Homo sapiens: one gene and its partners. Changing the gene in region 2 together with the main gene of any one other region gives a genetic interaction. Each region holds a gene or a part of one and is shown on either strand. Other genes may lie near its edges.

Evidence for each region. Genes that interact genetically often act in the same process or in processes that back each other up.
Region 1: changes in FLT3 (region 2) and GAGE10 together harm fitness less than expected from each alone (positive genetic interaction), as found in Homo sapiens cells (one study listed by BioGRID).
Region 3: changes in FLT3 (region 2) and XAGE1A together harm fitness less than expected from each alone (positive genetic interaction), as found in Homo sapiens cells (one study listed by BioGRID).

Annotation. Positions count from the first base shown.
Region 1 is NC_000023.11:49,298,924-49,307,178, reverse strand, and holds the start of GAGE10 (G antigen 10), read right to left. Parts: upstream 3,534-8,255; 5' UTR 3,426-3,533; intron 2,328-3,425; 5' UTR 2,320-2,327; coding exon 2,239-2,319; intron 1,815-2,238; coding exon of another isoform or gene 1,776-1,814; coding exon 1,655-1,775; intron 1-1,654.
Region 2 is NC_000013.11:28,002,104-28,006,888, forward strand, and holds the end of FLT3 (receptor-type tyrosine-protein kinase FLT3 precursor), read right to left. Parts: intron 2,072-4,785; coding exon 1,949-2,071; 3' UTR 1,171-1,948; downstream 1-1,170. UniProt on the Homo sapiens protein: Tyrosine-protein kinase that acts as a cell-surface receptor for the cytokine FLT3LG and regulates differentiation, proliferation and survival of hematopoietic progenitor cells and of dendritic cells.
Region 3 is NC_000023.11:52,490,578-52,499,340, reverse strand, and holds the start of XAGE1A (X antigen family member 1), read right to left. Parts: upstream 3,534-8,763; 5' UTR 3,432-3,533; exon of another isoform or gene 3,303-3,431; coding exon of another isoform or gene 3,112-3,302; intron 2,026-3,111; coding exon of another isoform or gene 1,980-2,025; coding exon 1,884-1,979; coding exon of another isoform or gene 1,868-1,883; intron 1,357-1,867; coding exon 1,230-1,356; intron 1-1,229.

The sequences.
Region 1 (8,255 bases), on a different chromosome or scaffold from region 2:
GAAGCGAAAGCTATTAACAATTGGTGAATCTAGGTGAAAAGTATAGGAGTTCATTGTACTATTCTTGCAAATTTTCCATAATGTTATGCCTTGAAAATAGATACAGTAAAAATTTAAAAGAATATATGACAATTACACTGAACTTTAGGAAGACAGGAGGTTTTTTTTAATTATGGTAAAAAATACACATATTCTAAAATTTACCATCTTAACTATTTTTAAGTGGTACAGTTCACTAAGGAGTTATGTTTGCAACATTACCAGCAACTAGGCACAAACTTTGCATCTGTGTTTTCCTATACCATGAAACCTTTAGTTATCTGTTTGTTTGTTTGTTTGTTTATTTATTTATTAGTGATAAGGTCTTGCTATGTTTCCCAGGCTGGGCTTCAACTCCAGGGCTCAAGCAATCCTCTCACCTCAGACTCCCAAGTAGCTGGGACTATGCGTGCACAGCATTCAGCCCAGCTTGAGACCTTTCTCCTAAATGACAATCTAAGGATAAACCACAGGACATGTATAATGCTTATATTCAGCCATAGAGTACCGAGAGCAGTGTGCATCAGCTAAGAAATCTCAAGTCTACCACATGGATAGGATTTCGGTTACAATTACAATGTCAATTTCTGAAGGATCGATTAGCTGAATGGATTTGAGGACTATGGAAAATCTTACAGTCATGACACCCATTACTTATTGAGGTAAATAGAAACTTCATTTTGTTCAAATAAAGTTATATTTAGGTCCAAAGGTCCTAAATGTAATATTCCATAAATGAACCCCGTGAAGAACAAAGCACCAAATATAACATTGTTTGTGAATCACAGAAAATATACTGTCCCACACTGAGAATAAGGGAGTGGGAGGACAGCAATTAATGGGCATTGTTGTCAGTCAGATTCTAGAAATTTTTAACAGTGCATCCCTGGAATAATCCATGACCTCAGTTACATAAATGTTTTGTTTGAAAATATTTTATCTAGGAGAAATTATTTCTATCTCAATGTTAATCTCAGGATAATTCCTTTTTTGCTTTTTCTAACCATAAAAGGATTTAATCACCTCCTAAAAGCCACTTAGAAAATAACTAAACCAGCTACCTGTATGGCAGTATCCTCATTTATCCAGCTTTTATCAAATGTACCATATAAAAACATCAATCAAAGGAAACAGTGGCTGACATTCAGTGACTCGGTTTTTGGAGCTGCTCCTGCTCCTCTGAACTGGGTCTATTCTTGGGTCAGTACTAAGCTACCTTACAGTAAAGCCTTTGAGTTTTAAGCATTTTCAGCAAAATCATTTCCGTTTTTACAGCAACATAGATGGTAGGAAGACACAAACCTTGGAACAAAATACAAATTTTGTATTCACCAGTCAAGGGCTCTTGGATAAAACACAATCCCAGCGCCTCCATTTTCTCATTCATAAAGATGAGAACTTTTATCATAGTGAGGGATTTGCCTAAGCTAAGCTGCAAACTACATAGCCTCCTCGCTTTTCCAGTCAATTTCAGGCATTCTTTCCATTGTTTTCTTTCCTCCTCTTCCTCCTATGTGACAATGCCTAACACACACACACACACACGTGCACACACACACACACGAACACACACACACGCACACACCAGCAGACGTTCTTCTTCCCTTTCCCTCACCTTGACCTGCAGATGCTCCCTCATCCTCTCCCTCCTGAGCAGCTGCAGGATCCTGACGTTGAGTTGCTGGTTCCCCTTCTTCAGGTGTTGCTGGTTCCACTTCATCACTGAACTGCTCGGGCTGGGGAATACGTGTGGGTGTGCAAATAAAAAATAAGTTTCGTTATTGATACAAAATTTTACATATATACACAGAATACATAGCTATTTCTGGTCCTAACTAAGCCTAAAGACATTTCTCCAACTCTATGCTCTATGCCCAATAAGGTTACTCGACCCACAGGAAGGTTACTATGAGAAAAGTGACGCACGAGGACTTTGGAGGCTATTATACTCAGTGTTGGAATACATGTGTACAATCTGTCATTAACAAACAAAGCCTGAGAAAGAAGTCATGGGCAAAAGCTGAAGAACACTAGAGGAAAAAAAATTCTCCAGAATCAATGTTTCCTTCATGAGACGCCATCATCATTTTTTATGAGCAGGAAAGACCTTTATCAGCATTTCCATACTAATGCAACAATACTGTCACAAAAATTAATTTCTGCTAATAGAAAACAACGAATTAACGTTTAAGCACTCACCAGCATAGGCCCAATCATTTCAGGGGGCTCTACGTAGCGTCTTGGTCTAGGCCGATAGGTCGATCTTCCTCGCCAACTCATATTTCACACTGAAAACAGACAACCGTGATTGGGAACGTGCGCTCCACAGGGCTGCTATATTCGATCACCTCCATGGATAAATGTTAACTTGTCGTTTTAATTTTGAAAATACTTTCAAAATAAGTCCCAGAGTTAAGCATATGTGTGTACCTTTTCTGAGTGCCTACAAAGCCACTTATGCTGGCCAAGCTGGCAGAGCAATCATCTTAAGGCGTGTGACAAAACGCAGAGGACATTTTTTTTCTAAATTTCTTTTGGTCCCGCAGTCTCCCTGTGTTGCTCTGGCAGAGTGCAGCGGCGTGATCACAGCTCACTGCAGCATCGACCTCCTGCTCAAGGGATCCTCCCACCTCAGCGTCCCGAGTAACTGGGACTACAGGCGCAGGCCATGGCGCCCCACTGGCAGAGGTCATTTCTGATGAGGTTTAGTTTCACAAGTGGACTCCACATGAAAACATTAGTGAATCATAATTCTCGTGATTGCTACTTTGGGCACACTCCCACTTACTAGAGCCATTCACTTCTCTCAAATCAAGTTTGATTGGACCGCACAGCCTCTCCCAGTCCTTCCCACTGTTGCCAGACCTTCCATGGCGGAGGTGAGATCTTGCGATGCTTCTCACTCGGGGCTCCCCACTCCACAAAGCTCAGGGGCACTCACCAGCCCGCAGTCTTCCCAGGTGCCAGGTCCCTTCTTTATCGCCCTCCTCGCACCTGTCCGGGACCTCATTCAGGGATCTCCCCTGTATCGGGTATTCCTGGCACCTCCGGACTTCCATCCCTCTGACAGCACACCCAGCAATCGCCCCTTCTTCACCTGAGCCCCTGACCGCCTCCCCTCCATGGCCCACCTTCCTCCTTGTCCTGGCCCCTTCACGACCACAAAGCAGATGGTGGCCTCACAGCCTTTGAGAGAAGGAGGACGACCTCAAGGCCCTTCTCTTTCAGAGGCCAGGAGCCCCTTCCCTTTCAGAAGCCTCGAGGCCCTTCTCCCTCAGAGGCCACAGACCACGAAGCAGGACCCAACGGACTCACCCGAAGCACACTGCCTGCTCTTCACCCTCACTCACACTTCAGACCCCGGGAGGACTGGCCTGCAGACCTACCAGATGAATCTCAGTAGAGGAAAAATATTCCAGACGACAGGAACGAGACCACACACCCTCACAGCTCCCTGGCGTTCTCCACGTGGGTAAAGCGGCTGAGCAGAAGACGCCCAGTGGACATGCGCACTGAGGCGGGAGCCAAGGAGCATGTACAGCTGCGGGTTGGGGAAGGCTGCCGTTCCCAGCCCCACGCCCCCAACCCTCGATTCCCATCCCCACTGAGGATAATGGAATCTGACCTCCCTCTGCTGTTTCCTATGCCTCTGGGACTCAAGTAGTGCTCCCCTCAAAACTCACTCCATCTTCAACTAAACCCCCCTCCCCTCCAGGGCCCTCTCTTGCCCCGGCCCCACCATGGGGACAAGGACCACGGTGACTGCCTGAGAAGACAGGTAAACCACCTGCGAAAACAGAAATAGCAACCTACCCCAAAAAGAAATTGTTAAATGTGAACAAGTCAGAGAAAGAGACTGAAAGAAAAATGAATACAATCTCTAGGACCCATAAGAAAATACTAAAACGATATCTATCATTTGTAGCATCAGAATCACAGAAAGAGAAGTGCCAGTATTAGAGAAACAGGAGAGCCAGAGTGACACCATGTGAAAATCAACTCCATCTTGAAACTCGCAAGACACATTCCTTACCAGTCACAACCCATGGTCCTAAGATGTTTGGAGTTGAGAAAACAGACGAAAGGTACCTCCAAGGACATGCTCCCACAGCAGCAGAAAGTGCAGGGTTCTCAACACCCATAACAATATATGCTTTCAACATAATTATGCTTTCATGGACTTACACACTGGAAAGTCAAGGATAGTTTTCTTTAAATCAATAGAATGATAAATTTCATCATGCCCTTAGCACACCCTCACAAAGATACAGATAAGTTTAGTCTTTACATAGAGAAGACCCTTGTATAAGAAAAACTGGCCAGGCCAAGACTCATGCCTGTAGTACTAGTATTTTTGGAGGCTGAGCTGGGCAGATTGCCTGAGCTCAGGTGTTCGAGACCAGCCTAAGCAACATGAGAAAATCTCATCACTACAAAAAAAAAAAAAAAGAAGAAGAAAAATTAGCTGGGAATGGTTACATGTACCTATAGTCACAGCTACTTAGAAGCCTGAGGTGGGAGGATCACTTGAGCCAAGAAGGTCAAGGATGCAGTGAGCTCTGATAACACCACTGCACTCCAGCCTGGGTGATAGAATGAGACCCTGTCTCGATTTTTAAAAATAGAAGATAAAAATGTACAAAGTTATCAATCTAATTCACTACATTAACAGATGAATGGGAAAAAAATGCTGTTATAAACAAAATAGATGCACTGATGAAACTCAACATATATTCAAATGAATACTCTCAGCAAATTTGGAACAGAATGGAATGACTTACTCTGATAAAGTCCATCTACAAAAAAAGGACAGTAAATAGGATGGTGAAATGTTGAAATTTTTCGGTTTCTCATCAGGGATAAGACAAGGATATTGACTGTCACCATTTTAACAGGTGGGTCTGCACAATGCCATAAAATCAGAAAAGGAAATAAAACTCTTTACAATGGCAACAACAGGCCCGGCACGGTGGCCCACGTCAGTAATCTCAGCACTGTGGGAGGTGAGGCGGGTGCATCACTTGCACTCAAAAGTTCAAGAACAGCCCGGGAAACATGGCAAAACCCCGTCTCTACAAAAAATACAAAAGGAAAAAGAAAAAAAAAATGGCAGAAACAAAATTGTTCTTATTCAAGGATGGTATGATTCTGTATGTTGAAGACTGAAAACCATCTAGAAGTAAACTTTTAGAATTCATAAGCATATTTCACAAGGCTGCTGGATAGAAAATCAATATATAAGAATTATGTCTCGCCCGGGCGCGGTGGCTCACGCCTGTAATCCCAACACTTTGGGAGGCCGAGGTGGGTGGATCACGAGGTCAGGAGTTCAAGAGCACCCCGGCCAAGATGGCGAAACCCCGTCTCTACTAAAAATACAAAATCTGGCTGGGTAGGTGGTGGGCTCCTGTAATCCCAGCTACTCGGGAGGCTGAGGCAGAAATTGCTTGCATCCAGGAGGCGGGGGTTGCAGTGAGCAGAGATCACACCACTGCACTCTAGCCTAAGCAACAGAGTGAGACTCTGTCTGGAAAGAGAAAAAAAGAAAAAAAAAAAAGGAATGATGTCTCTGCATACCAGCTGAAACAGTTAGAATATAAAATTTCAAAGAATGATACATATTTCACAGCATCAGAAAGCTAGAAATAAAATTCACAAAAGATGCGCAAGACTACTTTGCAGAAGGCTGTAAAGCTTTATTGGGAGAATTTTAATGAACAAATTTCCAACATAGGAGCAGCCTGCATCATTTCAGCTTGTCTTCTTTTAACTCCGTGATTGCTTTTCACCTGTAACAGAAACATAACAACTGGGAACATTACTTAACAGCAGTTTATTTATATGATTCTAAAGGCATGTAAAGCATACTACAGTTTGGGTTTTATTAAATAGACAAAAAAACAGAACCCTAAAGGTGATCCTGTGTCTTACATCCAATTAAACCTCTGTATACACTTTGAGGGTAGACCTCCAGAATTTAAAGGTAATTTCTTACCTATACATCAAGTACCTCCTTTAAATTCAGAAGCACTTATAATGAATGGTCAGCAATTTGGAAAACACATATGTAAAACATATTTCAGTTGATTACTCAGGAAGTACTAAAGTCATGGTCTTTGAACTTCAAATCTTATCAACTCATGTCTCAAAATCTGAAACTTACGTGTAACATTTGATATGGTTAGAGGTGATTATATCACTCTATCCACAGTCTTATTAGAAACAGTGGCTCATGCAGACTGACTGTGGGGCAGGGAGCATGCTTAGCACAAGCATCTTACTCACACCCATCCTGAGCATCACTGACCTTCATGCCACAGAAAATAGAAACTAAACAATCTATCACCTTTTGATTATTCACTCACTCAAGGTTTCCTTTGTGAAAGATTTAAAAAGCAATTATTTATTAAGAGCCAGAGAATCCCATCCTGGGCAACATAGTGAGACCTCATCTCTACAAAACTTATATCAAAAAAACAAAATTAATCGGGCCACGGTGGCTTGTGCCTATAGTTCCAGCTACTCAAGAGGCTGAGATGGGATGATCGCTTGAGCCTGGGAGTCAGAGGGTGCAGTGAGCTGAAGTTGTACCACTGCACTCCCGCCTGGGTGACAGAGTGAGACTCTGTCTTAAAAAAAAAAAAAAAAAAAAAAAAAAAAAACAGCAGCAATAGCAAGATGGCCAAATAGTAATACCTCTGGTCTGCAGCTCCCAGTGAGATCAAGGCAGAAGGTGGGTGATTTCTGCATTTCCAGCTGAGGTACCCGGCTCATCTCACTGGGACTCATTAGACAGTGGGTGCAGCCCATGGAAGGCAAGCCGAAGTAGAGTGGGGCACTGCCTTACCGGGGAAGCAGTAGGGGTCGGGGAACTCCTTCCCCTAGCCAAGGGAAGTTATGAGGAACTGTGCTGTGATGAACGGTGCATCCAGGCCCAGATACTATGCTTTTCCCATGGTCTTCTCAACCCACAGACCAGGAGATTCCCTCCTGTGCCTATGCCACCAGGGCCCTAGGTTTCAAACACAAAACTGGGCAACCGTTTGGGCAGATATGGAGCTTGCTGCAGGAGTTGTTTTTCATACCCCAGTGGTGCCTGGAATGCCAGCAAGACAGAACCGTTCACTCCACTGGAAAGGGGGCTAAAGCCAGGGAGCCATGTGGTCTAGCTGAGCAGGTCCCACCACCACGGAGCCCAGCAAACTAAGATCCACTGACTTGAAATTCTCACTGCCAGCACAGCAGTCTGAAGTTGACCTGGGATGCTCAAGCTTGGTGGGGGGAGGGGCGTTTGTCATTACTGAGGCTTGAGTAGGCAGTTTTCCCCTCACATTATGAACAAAGCCTCCGGGAAGTTCAAACTGGGCAGAGCCCACGGCCGCTTGGCAAACCCGCTGTAGCCAGACTGCCTCTCTAGATTCCACCTCTCTGGGAAGGGCATCTCTGAAAGAAAGGCAGCAGCCCCAGGCAGGGGCTTATAGATAAAACTCCCATCTTTCTGGGACAGAGCACCTGGGGGAAGGGGCGGCTGTGGGCACAGCTTCAGCAGACTTAAATGTTCCTGCCTGCTGGCTCTCAAGAGAGCAGCGGATCTCCCAGCACAGCGCTCAAGCTCTGCTAAGGGATAGACTGCCTCCTCAAGTGGGTCCCTGACCCCCATGCCTCCTGACTGGGAGACACCTTCAAGCAGGGGCTGACACATACCTCATATACAAGAGCTCCGGCTGGCATCTGGCAGGTGCCCCTCTGGGACGAAGCTTCCCAGAGGAAGGAAAAGGCAGCAATCTTTGCTGTTCTGCAGCCTCTGCTGGTGATACCCAGGCAAACAGGGTCTGGAGTGGAACTCCAACAAACTCCAGCAGACCTGCAGCAGAGGGGCCTGACTGTTAGAAGGAAAACTAACAAACAGAAAGGAGTAGTATCAACATCAACAAAAAGGACATCCACACAGAAACCCCATCTGAAGGTCACCAACATCAAAGACCAAAGGGAGATAAATCCACAAAGATGAGGAAAATCCAGCACAAAAAGGCTGAAAATTGCAAAACCCAGAATGCATCTTCTCCTCCAAAGGATCACAACTCCTTGCCAGCAAGGAAATAAAACTGGACCGAGAATGAGTTTGACGAACTGTCAGAAGTAGGCTTCAGAAGGTGGGTAATAACAAACTCCTTCGAGCTAAAGGAGCATGTTCTTACCCAATGCAAGGAAACTAA
Region 2 (4,785 bases):
TGCGCACACACCTGGCAGGGCGGCGACAGTGGGGGAGCTCAGCCTCAACTTTGCTCAAAAATCTGAGTGCCACCAGGAGTGGGAAGAGGCCAGGCAGCAAGAGCAGACACTTGTGAGCAGTGGGGGCAGGAAGGGCTTCCCCGGCCGGGAGCGCAGGGACGTCTAAGTCTGCAGCCACCGCTAGTCTGGTGGCAGCTGCTCCCAGGAGGGTGGGGCTCCCGCCCTGCCATCTCAAAAGGGGGCGGGGCTCCCACTAGCTCCACGGAGCGCACAGCCCCTGTGGCTCCCACACTGCAGCTGGCATCTTTGCAGTGGCCACTCCAGATGGGCCGCTGCTGCCATTAAAAGGACTGGTAATCTAAGGGAGTTTATGGTGACCTGGTACTAGGCAAAGGATTAAAACTATAAAGGAAGGCACAAATGATGCTATTAGGTCACACTGAGGTGCCAGGCATTGATCTACATGATGTATATGTTTATGTTCTATATTTCTATATTTCTAAGCTACGTATATATTTAATTCATCTAATTATTCCAGCAACTCTATAAAAGAGATGCCATTAGTGTCCCATTTTTCAGAAAAGGAAACTGAGGCTAGAGAAGTTGAGTTACTTGCCCCAATGACACAGCTAAGGCCAGGTGAAAAGAGAATTCCAACCTGGGCTGACCGGTTCCAGATCCCTTGTCCCTCACCACTACATGCAACAGGAGGTGGAGGAGAAAGAAGAGGCAGAATTTGGTGGCACCTGTCGTGTAAGCGGAGGTGGGCGGGGCGGGGGCACAAACCAAGTTCATAAGCCTACAGGATGGAGGGTGCTAAGCTTCAAAGGACAAAGAGGGCTGGTCGCCATGGCTCACACCTGTAATCCCAGCACTTTAGGAGGCTGAGGCAAGAGGACTGTTTGAGGCCAAGAATTTGTGACCAGCCTGCACAGCATAGCAAGACACTATCTCTACAAAAAATTTTAAAAATTAGCTGGGCGTGGTGGCCTGTGCTTGTAGTCCCAGCCACTCAGGAGGCTGAGGTGGGAGGATCGCTTGAGGCCAGGAGTTTCAGGCTGCAGTGAGCTGTGATCTCACCACTCCACTCCAGCCTGGGAGACAGGGTGAGACCCTGTCACTAAAACATTAAATAAACAAACAAATAAATAAAAATAAAATGAAGGGGACTGTGGGGACAAGAGTAACTTTATTGAAAATACTAATCCTCCATGTTACTTCTGACTGGCCCTGAGTCTGGGAAGGCCGCCAAAGTGTCTAGGTGATGTATTACTCTTTATGGTAGAACACCTATTCATTATAAACTTCCCCCAATACAACCCCTGTTGTTGCAGAAATCTTAGGCTGTGACAACCATAGCTGCCTACACATTCCTTGTATCTTGGGGTAAAAGCACACGTGCTCTGGAAGGAATGTGTAGGTGGCTATGGGTGCACAATTTCAGGGGGTTCGTGAACTCCAGTTAAGACTTGCCCTAATTATACCATGTAAATAATTCAATAATGGGCAATTCTGTAGTAGAAATTTTATTCCCACCCATAAAATATATCACTAAATAGCTGAAAAATTTACATATTATTTTAAAACATAGACTTAAAAAATCATATTAGCTTCTCCTTAGCAAAATGCTTTTGTTTTATGTATTTACAAGAATATACTGTACTTCAGGTACACAATTCACTCAAGCCAGCCTGAGAAGGCCTTGGATGCAGATCAATGCTCCAATAAAGTTCATTATCAGCTCCTCCTGCCTTGTGACAGGATGATTTGATTTTACAAAAGTCCCTTTGAAAACAAGAGTAAACGCAGACAGCTTCTAGAGAAAAGTCTGGTGAAGCAGCAGTTGATAATAGATTTTCTTTTAGTGATGAAATTAATCTTGTTTTGGTAATCTACAGCCTGTTAGGGATAGGTGGAGGGATGAAGTCCTTAAAACTAAATTGTTCCTCTACGAATCTTCGACCTGAGCCTGCGGAGAGAGTAGCCCCAAATCCATCTCTCTGCTGAAAGGTCGCCTGTTTTGGTAGGTGTGAGGACATTCCGAAACACGGCCATCCACATTCTGATACATCTGAATGTGGGAAAGAGACAGAACACTGATTACCATCTGATGTAGATGCACATGTTATGCGCCCATATTACAAATTATTTAAATAAAAACAGTTGTTCTATATAGACAATTACTTTTTTGTTTGTTTGTTGTTTGTTTGTTTATTTTTTGAGACAGAGTCTCGCTCTGTTGCCCAGACTGGAGTGCAGTGGTACAACCATAGTTCACCGTGGCCTTGATGTTCTGGGTTTGAGCAATCCTCCCACCTTAACCTCCTGAGTAGCTGGGACCACAAGCAGGCTCCACCACACCCTGCTAATTTTTTTATTTTTTGTAAAGACAAAGTCTCACTATGTTGTCCAGGGTGGTCTCAAACTCCTGGGCTCAAGTGATCCCACACCACCCCGGCCTCCCAAAGTGCTGCGATTACAGGTGTGAGCCACTACGCCCGGCCTAGACATCACTTTTAAAATGTTTAAACTGATATATAATAGATGTACATATTTTCAGGAAACGTGTAGACAAGTACTTTTATTATGCATAGGTCTCAGAGGATATTCTATATAACTAAAAAAGCAATTTTGGTCCTTTTATTAATGGAGAAATCAAATCATAGTCAAATATTTTATTTCATTATTGAGTCTACTCTCAGATATAAAATGTCACCCTAGAAATCCTAAAACCATGCAGAAAAATCATAAAAGAGAAAGGCCACAAAAGGAAATCTGTTCATTATGGAGTTAATACAAGGGACTGATTCTTGAGTTTTCCCTTGGAGTTTCACGACTTTTAAATATTTTTTTCTGAAATGAAGAGATTTACTTTCCTTTCCCAAATATGAAGTTAACATGCATTCATATAGATAATTTGAGAAATACAGAAAGAGACGTAGAAGGCCGGGCGCAGTGGCTCATGCCTGTAATCCCAGCACTTTGGGATGCCGAGGCGGGCGGATCACCTGGGGTTGGGAGTTCAGGACCAGCCTAGCCAACGTGGAGAAACCCTGTCTCTACTAAAAATACAAAACTAGCCGGGCATGGCGGCGCGCGCCTGCAGTCCCAGCTACTTGGGAGGCTAAGGCAGGAGAATTGCTTGAACCTGGGAGGTGGAGGCTGCAGTGAGCCTAGATTGTGCCACTGCACTCCAGCCTGGGTGACAGAGCAAGACTCCATCTCAAAAAAAAGAAAAAAGGCTACAAGTCATGACAAGTACCCGCCATTATAGACAGCTTGCTATGCACACACAATTTTGTGTCTGTGGGCTCAGGCTATATATTCTATTTTGGAACCTTATTTTGAATTATCAATATATTGTTATTATACTGCTCATATGTTGCCTGTGTCACATATTTACATTATTCACTAAGGATGGCCACATATTTTTTTTTCACGGCAGCCTAGAGTTCCATAGTACTGATGCATCATAATTAACCTTTTGACCAACTGGTTATACGAAACAAACTGAAAAGTGCACACTCAATCTAGTCTGACGTTGGGATAAGCAGAAGTGGAATTGCTGGATCAAAAAGGATGCACACTTGAACTGTGATACACAAGGCCAGGCTGCCCTGCAGAAAGGTTGTATTTATTTCTACTCCTATCAACGGTGCCTGGAAACTATATTTTCCAGAGCCTTCTGAACAATGGGTATGTCAGCCTCCCACATCTCTTCTCTTTTGCTGAGCAAGAAGTTCTATCTCCTTAACTATATATGTTTCACTATCTGCAAAGTTGGGCCTTTTTCCTATACTTTATGTCCATTTGTTTTCATTTTGAATAGCCTGCCTATTTCCTTTGCCTTTTATGTATATAAAAGGCTATACAGGCTGGGTGTACTGGCTCAACTCTGTAATCCTAGCACTTTGGGAGGCCGGGGCGGGAGGATTGCTTGAGGCCAAGAGTTCAAGACCAAACTAACCAACATAGCAAGATCCTGTCTCTAAAAGAAATAAGTTTTTAAAAGGTGATACATTTTTATTATTATTTGTTTATAAGAACTTTATGATTTAGGAATCATGCATTCTATTTAAATTTTATAGATTTGTTCCGTTCCCACAGCCCTTGTTACTGTCTACTTCTTTTTCTTTGTTTTTGACAGTTTTAATGTGAACTGTCCAGACTGCCTCCTACACTTCACTTTTCTTTCTAGAAAATTGTGTGTGTGTGTGTGTGTGTGTGTGTGTGTGTGTATCCTTTGACCCAAAATATATCCATTGTGAACCAGGTGTTGCACAATGACAGCTTTGCTTGTACCCTGAAGGATGAACAGTAACTACTCATGCGTGCCTTTTGTGAAGTAGACATAGCAGTTAGTTAGCATTTGTTGAACCTGTTGAATCCAAATGTACATCTCTACCACTGAATTTCTAACCACCTCATGAAGTTTGTGTAGCACAAATACCAATAACACTTCCAATCTTCCACCTGAATTAACTAACATGTGCTCTTCATCCAGTCTCACTGTCTAGAAGTTTCTAGAACCATCTCTGACAATCTCTCTCCACTCCCATAGCTAGTTACTGGGTATAGTTGTAATACATCACTCTTTTCCATTTCTTTAAGTGACCTTTCTTTCCTTTTTTTTTTTTTTTTTTGTTGTTGCTGTTGCTGTTGTGACAGAGTCTCACTCTGTTGCCCAGGCTGGAGTGTTGTGGCATGATCTCAGCTCACAGCAACCTCTGCCTCTCAGGTTCAAGCAATTCTTGTGCCTCAAGTAGCTGGGACTACAGGTGTGTA
Region 3 (8,763 bases), on a different chromosome or scaffold from region 2:
GCTTGTTCAGTGGGCTCCTGGAAATCGTCTGAGAACTATCTTTTAATGTAAATAGTATAATGGAATGGTTCAGCAGGGTACAGTAAAAACACTTAGGTAATTTCTCCCTTAAACATGGGGTGCTTCCTTTAACTTCAAGAGGTATTGTAATTAACAGTCACCAATTTGGAAAATATGTGTAAAACATACTTGTGTCAACTACTCAGGAACTAGCACAGTGCTGTTGTTGAACTTCAAACCCTATCATCTAATGCCTCAAGGCAGAAACCTGTAATATGTAACCTATGGTATGGTTAGAGGTGACTCTACTATATGAGTCTTCAATCTAATTACACGAAGTAGTTCATGAAGACTGACGGGAGGGCAGGGAGCATGCTTAGCAGAAGCATCTTACACCCACCTTGGGCATCACTGACCTACATGCATTCTCTCTACTTCACTGGCCACAGAAACCTGATGATCTCCTGCCATTTTATCATTCAGTCATTCAAGGCTTCACTGCGGGAAGGCTTTAAAATGCAATTATTCTTTAAGAGACAGAGAACTCAGAATTTGGCAAAATACAAGAACACTCATACAGGGCTCCACACAGGAAAACAAACACCAAGCAGAGTGCCCGCTCATTTTCCTAGGAACCATGAAATCTCAACTCAGACACTATAATTGGACTGAAGCTGATTGTTATGATAAACAAATCATGAAGATCAGAATATCTTGGTCTTCTATCCAACAGAACCAGAGCATGTGGAAATTAGCAACGAAATGGATTTTAATCTATCTGATGTGCATCCACTCTTTTCACTAAGAGCAAGGATGCCTGTGGAATTTATACGATTCATCCAGACTCTCACAAATTATGGTAGAGCTGGTACTAGAATCTGCTTCAGGGCTCAGCATACTTCACACAAACTGGTATTACAAATGCATTATGTGTTTGTTAAAAGCAGAAATTAGAAAAGAATCTGAAAATTGTTAGCTGTTGGTTATACACCAAACTAAGAAAATGCTGTCACGTTTGATGATTCAATATGGCTTTGACCCAATTTGTTTCTGTATCTGATAGTGTTTAAGTCTTGCAATCTGGCATTTGGGTCTGAACGACGTTTCAAAGAACATTTGCATTTGCACTGTGTTTTTAAAGTAGCACTAATGTTATCCCTCTATTATCAAAAGTATAATACTGTGTAAATGAGAAAGCACATAACTTTGCATCTTGCTGGATAACATACCTGCTTCTGGCATTTTACAGTGTTCCTCTTTAGGTATTATCTTCACCTTGACGCCGGAACCCAAATCCAGATTTATCCCCGGTGTTTGACTGATGCAGCTCTTGCAGATCACCTTCCATGTCGCGCACTTCAAAATACAAAGGTTATCGATTTAAGCATTCCAACATGAAATATAAATAAGGAAATGATAATATTCTCTTCCTTCGCGTTACGAAATAAAGCCTGAGCCAGGCGTAGTGGTTCATGCCTGTAATCTCAGCACTTTGGGAGGCCGAGGTCGCTTGAACCCAAGAGCTGGAGGTGGCAGTGAGCCAAGATCATGCCACAACAATCCACACTGCGTGACAGATGAGCCTCTGCCACATAATAAAAAAATGTACATTTCTATACACCAAATTAAATGGTTTCAAGTGATTTAGTAAGGACTGTATTTTCAAGCATACAAAATCCATCTCGAAGAACAAGAGAAGATTCATTATATCCAGGGACAGCATGAAGCTGCAAACTATACTCTCCCTTTTCCAGCCAACTTTGAGCAAATGTTTGGTATCTTTTCCTAATGTTCTCTTTGCTCCTGTTACTGCTCATGGCATAGGCCACAATGCACACATAGACCTTCTCCCGCCCCATAGACATACTTTCCCTTCCCAGCACCTGGGATCTCAGCTGTATCCTGATCTTCTTCTGTCTGCTGCCCAGGTGTAGGATCCCGACTTTCAGCTGCTGGTTCTTCTTTTTGGGGCTCTCCATTACTGGGCTCCTGGGACTGGCTGTGTGGTTCTGTGTTTGTGTGTGTCTAGATAAAAAGTTTTGTTATTAATACATGTCAATAATATAAATATACAGAATACACAGGTATGTCTTATTATAAGTATGTCTAGAGACATTTCTCCAACACTACCCCGTATACCTAATCTTCATAACACTATTCTTCCCTCAGAGAGGTTACTCAAAGACAGATATCCTCAGGGACTTTGGAAGCCGTTTTAATCAATGTTGGGATGAATGTGTGTAATCTGTTCTGAATAAGCATGAGGAGGAAGTTATGGACAAAATCTGGGCACACACGATCATCCACCCACACAAAACCCAAATATAACCCTCTGGACTAATCTTTCCTTCATGGGATGCCATGATCATTTTTTATCAGCATGGGAGACCATTATCAGTGTATCCATACTAGTCCATCAACACTATCAGAAAAATAACTTTCTGCTAAGAGAAAACATCGAATGTTAAGACATTCACAAGCAGAGGCACAATGAGCTCAGGAGGTTGTGAACTTCTTGGCATAGGCCTATATGTTGATCGTCCTCATCAACACATACTTCACTCTGCAAGCAGAATACTGCGATTGGGAAAATGCACTTGACAGGACAACTAGATTTGACCGCTTTCATGGTCAAATGTTAACTTGGACATTTTTTTTTTTTTTAATTTAGAAATACTCTGAAAGTCCCCGGGCAAGTATAAGTGTATGCACCTTTTGAATCGAATGCTTGCAAAGCCACTTAAGTAGGTCTAGCTAGCTGAGCGATGTCTTAAGGCTCCTGGCAAAAAACACAGGGCATTTCCCATGAGGTTGGTTTCACAACTGGACACTCCATCAGGGAGACAAGTAGGAAATTACAGCTACAGAACTGAAACTGCAGTGACCACCAATTTTGTCACATAATGATTTGCTAGGCCCACTTCCCCCCCACCCCAAAGTCACATTTTTAGGAACTCAGGGCCCCGCCCATTGGAATCTCCACAGTGGAGTTGAGAATTTGCTACACAGCAGTGGGCACTCCTCACAGGACCCCTATGCCAGGCACTCTACAGACCTCGGGGCTGCGGTCACTAGCCCGCAGCATGCCCCGTCTCCAGGACCCTTCCATACCGCTCATGCCGTCCCTCTCCTGGTCCCGTCTGGGGAGTCCAGAATCTTCTGTCGGGGTTCCAGGTGCTTCTGGGACTCGGATACCCCCAACAGCACCCCAGCTTCGCCTGAGCCCCTCCACTCCTCGGCCCTCCTTCCTCCCTAGTTATGGCCGTGACGAGACAAGAAGGTCCATGGGCGTGGCACCGCATGAGAGGGACGACGACTTCGAGGGCCTTCTCACTCTGAGTCACTGACCACACAACCCTCCGGAAGCCTGCTGGTTCCTCTTCACTCTCACTCACACTTCAACTCCCAGTTGGATCTGCCTGTGGACCTACCCGCCGTGTCTCAGTAGCGGAGAAAGAATCCAGACCTCAGGGACCCGAGTCGCCGGCTCACAGCTCCGCCGCGTTCCCCACACTGGCGAAGGGGCCGATGGGAAGACGCCCAGTGAACATGCGCACTGAGGTGGGCACCAAAGGAGCATGCGCAGTGAGGTTCCCTCGTGCCTTAAGGGCTGTGGTGCCCCTCCTTATCCCGCCTTGCCCTGTCCTATGCTCCTTCCCAGGTCCCCATTAACGACTTTGGAATCCCTCCTCTCTGTGTGTGGGTTCCCCCCCACCAGGACTCAAATACCTCAAATAAAGTCAGCCTTCAAAACTCACTCCATGACCGGGCGCGGTGGCTCACGCCTGTAATCCCAGCACTTTGGGGGGCGGAGGCGGGTGGATCATGTGGCCAAGAGATCGAGACCATCCTCGCCAACATGGTTAAAACCCGTCTCTACTGAAAAATACAAAAATTAGCTGGGTGTGGTTGTGCGCGCCTGTACTCCCAGCTACTCGGGAGGCTGAGGCAGGAGAATCACTTGAACCCGGGAGGCGGAGGTTACAGTGAGCCGAGATTGCGCCACTGCACTCCAGCCTGGTGACAGAGCAAGACTCCGTGAAAAAAAAAAAAAAACTCACTCCATGCTCACCTGACCCTCCTCCCCGCTATGGCCCTCCTTCGTCCCATGCCCGGGACCCCACAACAGCAAGGCCATGGCAGTATCGCTGAGTTTTAGTAGAAAGATGACGACCTCAGAGGCCATGGACCAAGTGGCACAACCCACAGGAAGCCCCCCACGCTCCCCCTCACACTCACTCACACTTCACTTTCTGGGAGGACTGATCTGCAGACCTACTGGCTAAGTCATAGTCAGCACGAAAGAAGGAAGTCACGACGTCTCCTTTCACAGTTGTGGAGGGACAGAAGTTAGAGAGCAAGGCGCATAGGCAGCAAGGAACTTTCATAGAAAGGGACATGCACATTGAGCCAGGGACTTTTCAGGGCAGGGTAGGGTTTTCCGCTGTTCCCAGACCCGCATCCCCATGGCGTTTGTAGTAGAAAAAGGGACTTGAGAGCTTTCGTCTCTCTTTGTCCAATCTCATGCATTCAGAAACGTTGGGAACAGACAGTCCCTTACTGGAGGATGTGTCTCAGGAAGACCTTTTGTGGAAGAAATAAATTATTTTCATATCTTTATTTATAAAGCCGTTTTTATTTATTTTTTTTTCCAGACAGAGTGTCACTCTGTTGCTCAGGCTGGAGGGCAGTGGCATGACCATACCTCACTGAAGCCTCCATCTCCTGGGCTCAAACAATCCTCCCGATGTAGCCTCCCCAGTCCCTGCTACTACAGGTGCAGACACCACACCTGGGTAATTGGTTTATTTATTATTTATTTATTTTTTAGATAGTGGTCTCACTGTGTTGCCCATGCTGGTCTCAATTTCCTGGGCTCAAGTGATCCTCCCACCTTGGCCAGTTTTATAAATGCTTTTATTAATCACTTTGTTCTCTGGTTCTGGGTTTTCTGCCATGCTTCCAATAAACGTAATTGAATAAATTCTTCTGTAGAATAAATACATTCACACCTGTTTACTCTTTTCTTTTTAGGTTGTGTTACTTCACATTTAAATCTCTGGACTGGTAACTGATTTCCCTGAATATACCTGTAGGTCATTCAGACAGTATATGTTTCAGAAATAGCCATAGATTCTGACTGTAGGCTCTAGGCTCAGTTATGACCAGAAAACAAGTCCTGCCAGTCTCCTACCTCAAATGTATGTTTGTGTATTGACCTGATCCCTGGGACAAGTTTCCCAGACTGAAATCATGGTATCATAAAGCTGGACGCTTTCTTGAGGGGATAGAGTAACATCCATATTTTCAATCCGTGTGTAAATAAATTAATTAATGGATGAAAAGATGTATGCAATAATGCAAAGCAGAATAACAGGTATTTGATTAATACGGCATCACCAAATTTTGCTTTAACAGATCTGATCGTAATTATTTCAGTCTTTGTGGGTCATGTAGTTTCTGTGGCGTAGTGTTGTGTTTTTTAGCAATAATACTTTTAAATGGAAAAAAATCCTTATCTCAATGGCTATGCAAAACAAGCCATGGGCTGTATTTAGATCTCAAGCCATAGTCAGCTAGCCCCTGGATTATCTTTTACTTCACATATTTGAATGCTGTATTTTTGTACCAGTAGTCAAAAGATTAACAAAGGAGAGTTCTACCACCAGGTAAGATTTAGAAAGCCTCAAGAGAAAGTCACTTTAGCCTTGAAAATGAAAAACAGCCTAATAATCTATAACGTTATCTTTTGTTTTGCTTTGTTTTTAGATCATGAGAGACCTGAGGTAACAAGGCAGCCATGGGAACTGATCCAAAATGGTGACTTAGTCCCTCTGAGGAGGGATGAGACAAACAAACTGCATCACCTGTGGCAGAGCATGTGTGGAAGAAGTGACAGCCATAACAGGGGGTAAGAAGAAAACCAGTGAAAATGTAGCAAATTCATAAAGTTCGAACACAGGCATTTGAGAGAGCTGGAATCCTGGCAAGTCTCAGACACCAGCGGAATTCACGTTCACAGACAGAAAGACATCCTGTCTCAAAAAACAGAGTCAGAGTCTATAAGGCTGGATAAAAAGCAAGAACAAAAATAACAGACGCTGGTGAGTTTGTGCAGAAAAGGCAACGCTTATACCCTGTTGGTTGGAGTATAAATTAGTTCAACCATTGTGGAAAGGAGTGTGGCAATTCCTCACGGACTTAAGAACAGAAATACCATTTGGCCCTGCAATCCCATTGCTGGGACTATACCCAAAGGTACATAAACCTTTCTATTATAAAGACGCATGCACATGTATGATCATTGTAGCACTACTCACAATAGCAAAGACATGGGATCAACCTAAATGCCCATCAATAACAGACTGCACTTTTTAAAATGTGGTACATATACACCATGGAGTACTATGCAGCCATAAAAAACAGTGAGATCATGTCCTTTCCAGGAACACGGATGGAGCTGGAGGCCATTATCCTTAGCAAACTAATGCAGGAGCAGAAAACCCAATACCACATGAAGTCACTTATAAATGGGAGCTAATTGCTGAGAACACATGGACACCCAGAGAGGGCCAACACGCTGGGGCTTATCAGAGGGTAGAGGCTGGGAGGAGGGAGAGGATCAACAAAATAACTAATGGGCACTGGCCTTACTACCTGGGTGATGAAATAATCTGTACAACAAACCCCATGACATGAGTTTACCTATATTACAAACCTGCACATGCACCCTGAACCCAAAATAAAAGTTAAAAGAAAACTCGAAAATAATTGTGAACTCTTCTGATCTTTCTACTTTACAAATATCAGTTCACTTCTTTTTATAAAAGGTAGGAAAGAAGGAAGGGAGTGAGGCATGAAGGGAGCCAGGGAGGAAGGGAGAAAATAAGGACAAATGGAGCGAGGGAGGGAGGGTGGAAAGAAGTAAAGGAGGGAGGGAGGGAGGCAGGAAGGGAGGCAGGAAGGAAGGAAGGAAGGAAGGAAGGAAGAGAAAAATAGGGCTGAACAAACGTTTCTGTCCCTAGCCAAACAGCTCTTGATGGGAAGGCACTTTTAGAAACTTGAGTGAAAAGTAACATAAATCAGAGGATTTGAATCATCTTCATTTACAGCCCTTCAAAAGTTATTCTGGCTGTTGTTTCTGAGCGATTCAAACCTGCCTTGGTCTCCATTAAATCCACATATTCTTCAGAAGGGCAACTCTTCCCTGGATTAACAGCTCAGCGGAGGACCAACACAAACTGGTTAGTCTAGGAAGAAAAAGAAAAGAAAAGTGCAGGAGACCAACATTTCCTCCCCCGTGGTTTTTTTTGTTTTTTTTTTTGTTTTGTTTTGTTTTTTTTTTTTACATCTCCTCCTCAATCTACAGAGGGATATTTGAATCTCCACATTTCAAAGCTAAGAGAGCTCTGAGAGATCATTTTATATAGTTGTTTCTCAAAGGATTTTTAGCAAAAGAACACCTTCGTGAAATGAAATTTTACCCAAAACCCTACTGTAGAAAATAGGGGGATAAAATTATATTTTTCATATAAATATACCACTTTAATGTGAAGATATCTTTCTATGAAGGCTGTCAAAGAGTTTGATTGAGGTTCTTTTGAAGAGCCGAGCAGATTATTCTGTGGATTTCTGCGTAACATTTTAGTTGTATATTAACTTCTGCATCTAATTTTTCGGTACTTTTATTGTTGTTGCACAGTTGCAAGAGGATCTTGATTTTCACAGTATATTTATCAGTAATCTGTATCTTGAAAAAAAGAGCCCCACTCTACAAATAAATAAGATACAAGTAAAAGATGGAAAAAGATATTTCCTGCAAATATGAATCACATAAACTCAAAGTGTGAAATTAGTATCTCACAAAGCACACTTTATAGTGGAGATTACTACAAGGGACAAAGTGGGACATTACATAATAATCATAGAGAGGTGCATTGATTCAGAAGACAGAAACACCACGGATATGTAGGCAACTTCAAAATACTTGAGGGACAACTGATACATCATCACAAAGAAGAAATAAACACATGTGCCTTTAGTAGAAGACTTCCCCATTACTCCCAGCATTTGGTAGAAAAAGTGTACAAAAAATCAGGATATATAAATGCAGAAGGCTTGAACAACACTATCAGACAGCATGGCCTAATTGATATTCATAGATCAACAGCAGAATGCACATTCTTCTCAAGTGCTCATAGAATGTTCACCAAGATAGACCATATTGTGGGCCAAAAAACAAATCTCAACAAATTCAAAAGGAATGAAATGTTATAAAACATGTTCTATGACCAAAAAAAGAATTGAAATGGAAATTAGTTGTAGAAAGATGTCTGCAACTCATGAAATCTTGGAAATTAAATGTCACATTTAAGTAACTCAGAGATCAAAGAAGAAATTGCAGGAAAAAATTTTAAAATGAAAACTCAACTTATCAAACTTTGCAAGATGAAACTAAAGCATAGAGGGAAATTTATACCCTTCAATACTTATGCCAGAAAGGAAGAAAAGTCTCAAATCAATTATCTAGGTTTCCACATTAAGAAACTAGAAAAATGAAATCAAATTATACCCAAAGTCAGAAGGAAAACTGTTAGACCGTGCACAGTGGCTCATGCCTGTAATCCCAGCACTCTTGGAGGCTGAGGTGGCCGATCCCCTGAGGTCTGGAGTTCGAGACCAGCCTGGCCAACATGGTGAAACCCGGTCTCTACTAAAAATACAAAAGTTAGCTGGGCTGGTGGTGCACGCCTATAGTTTCAG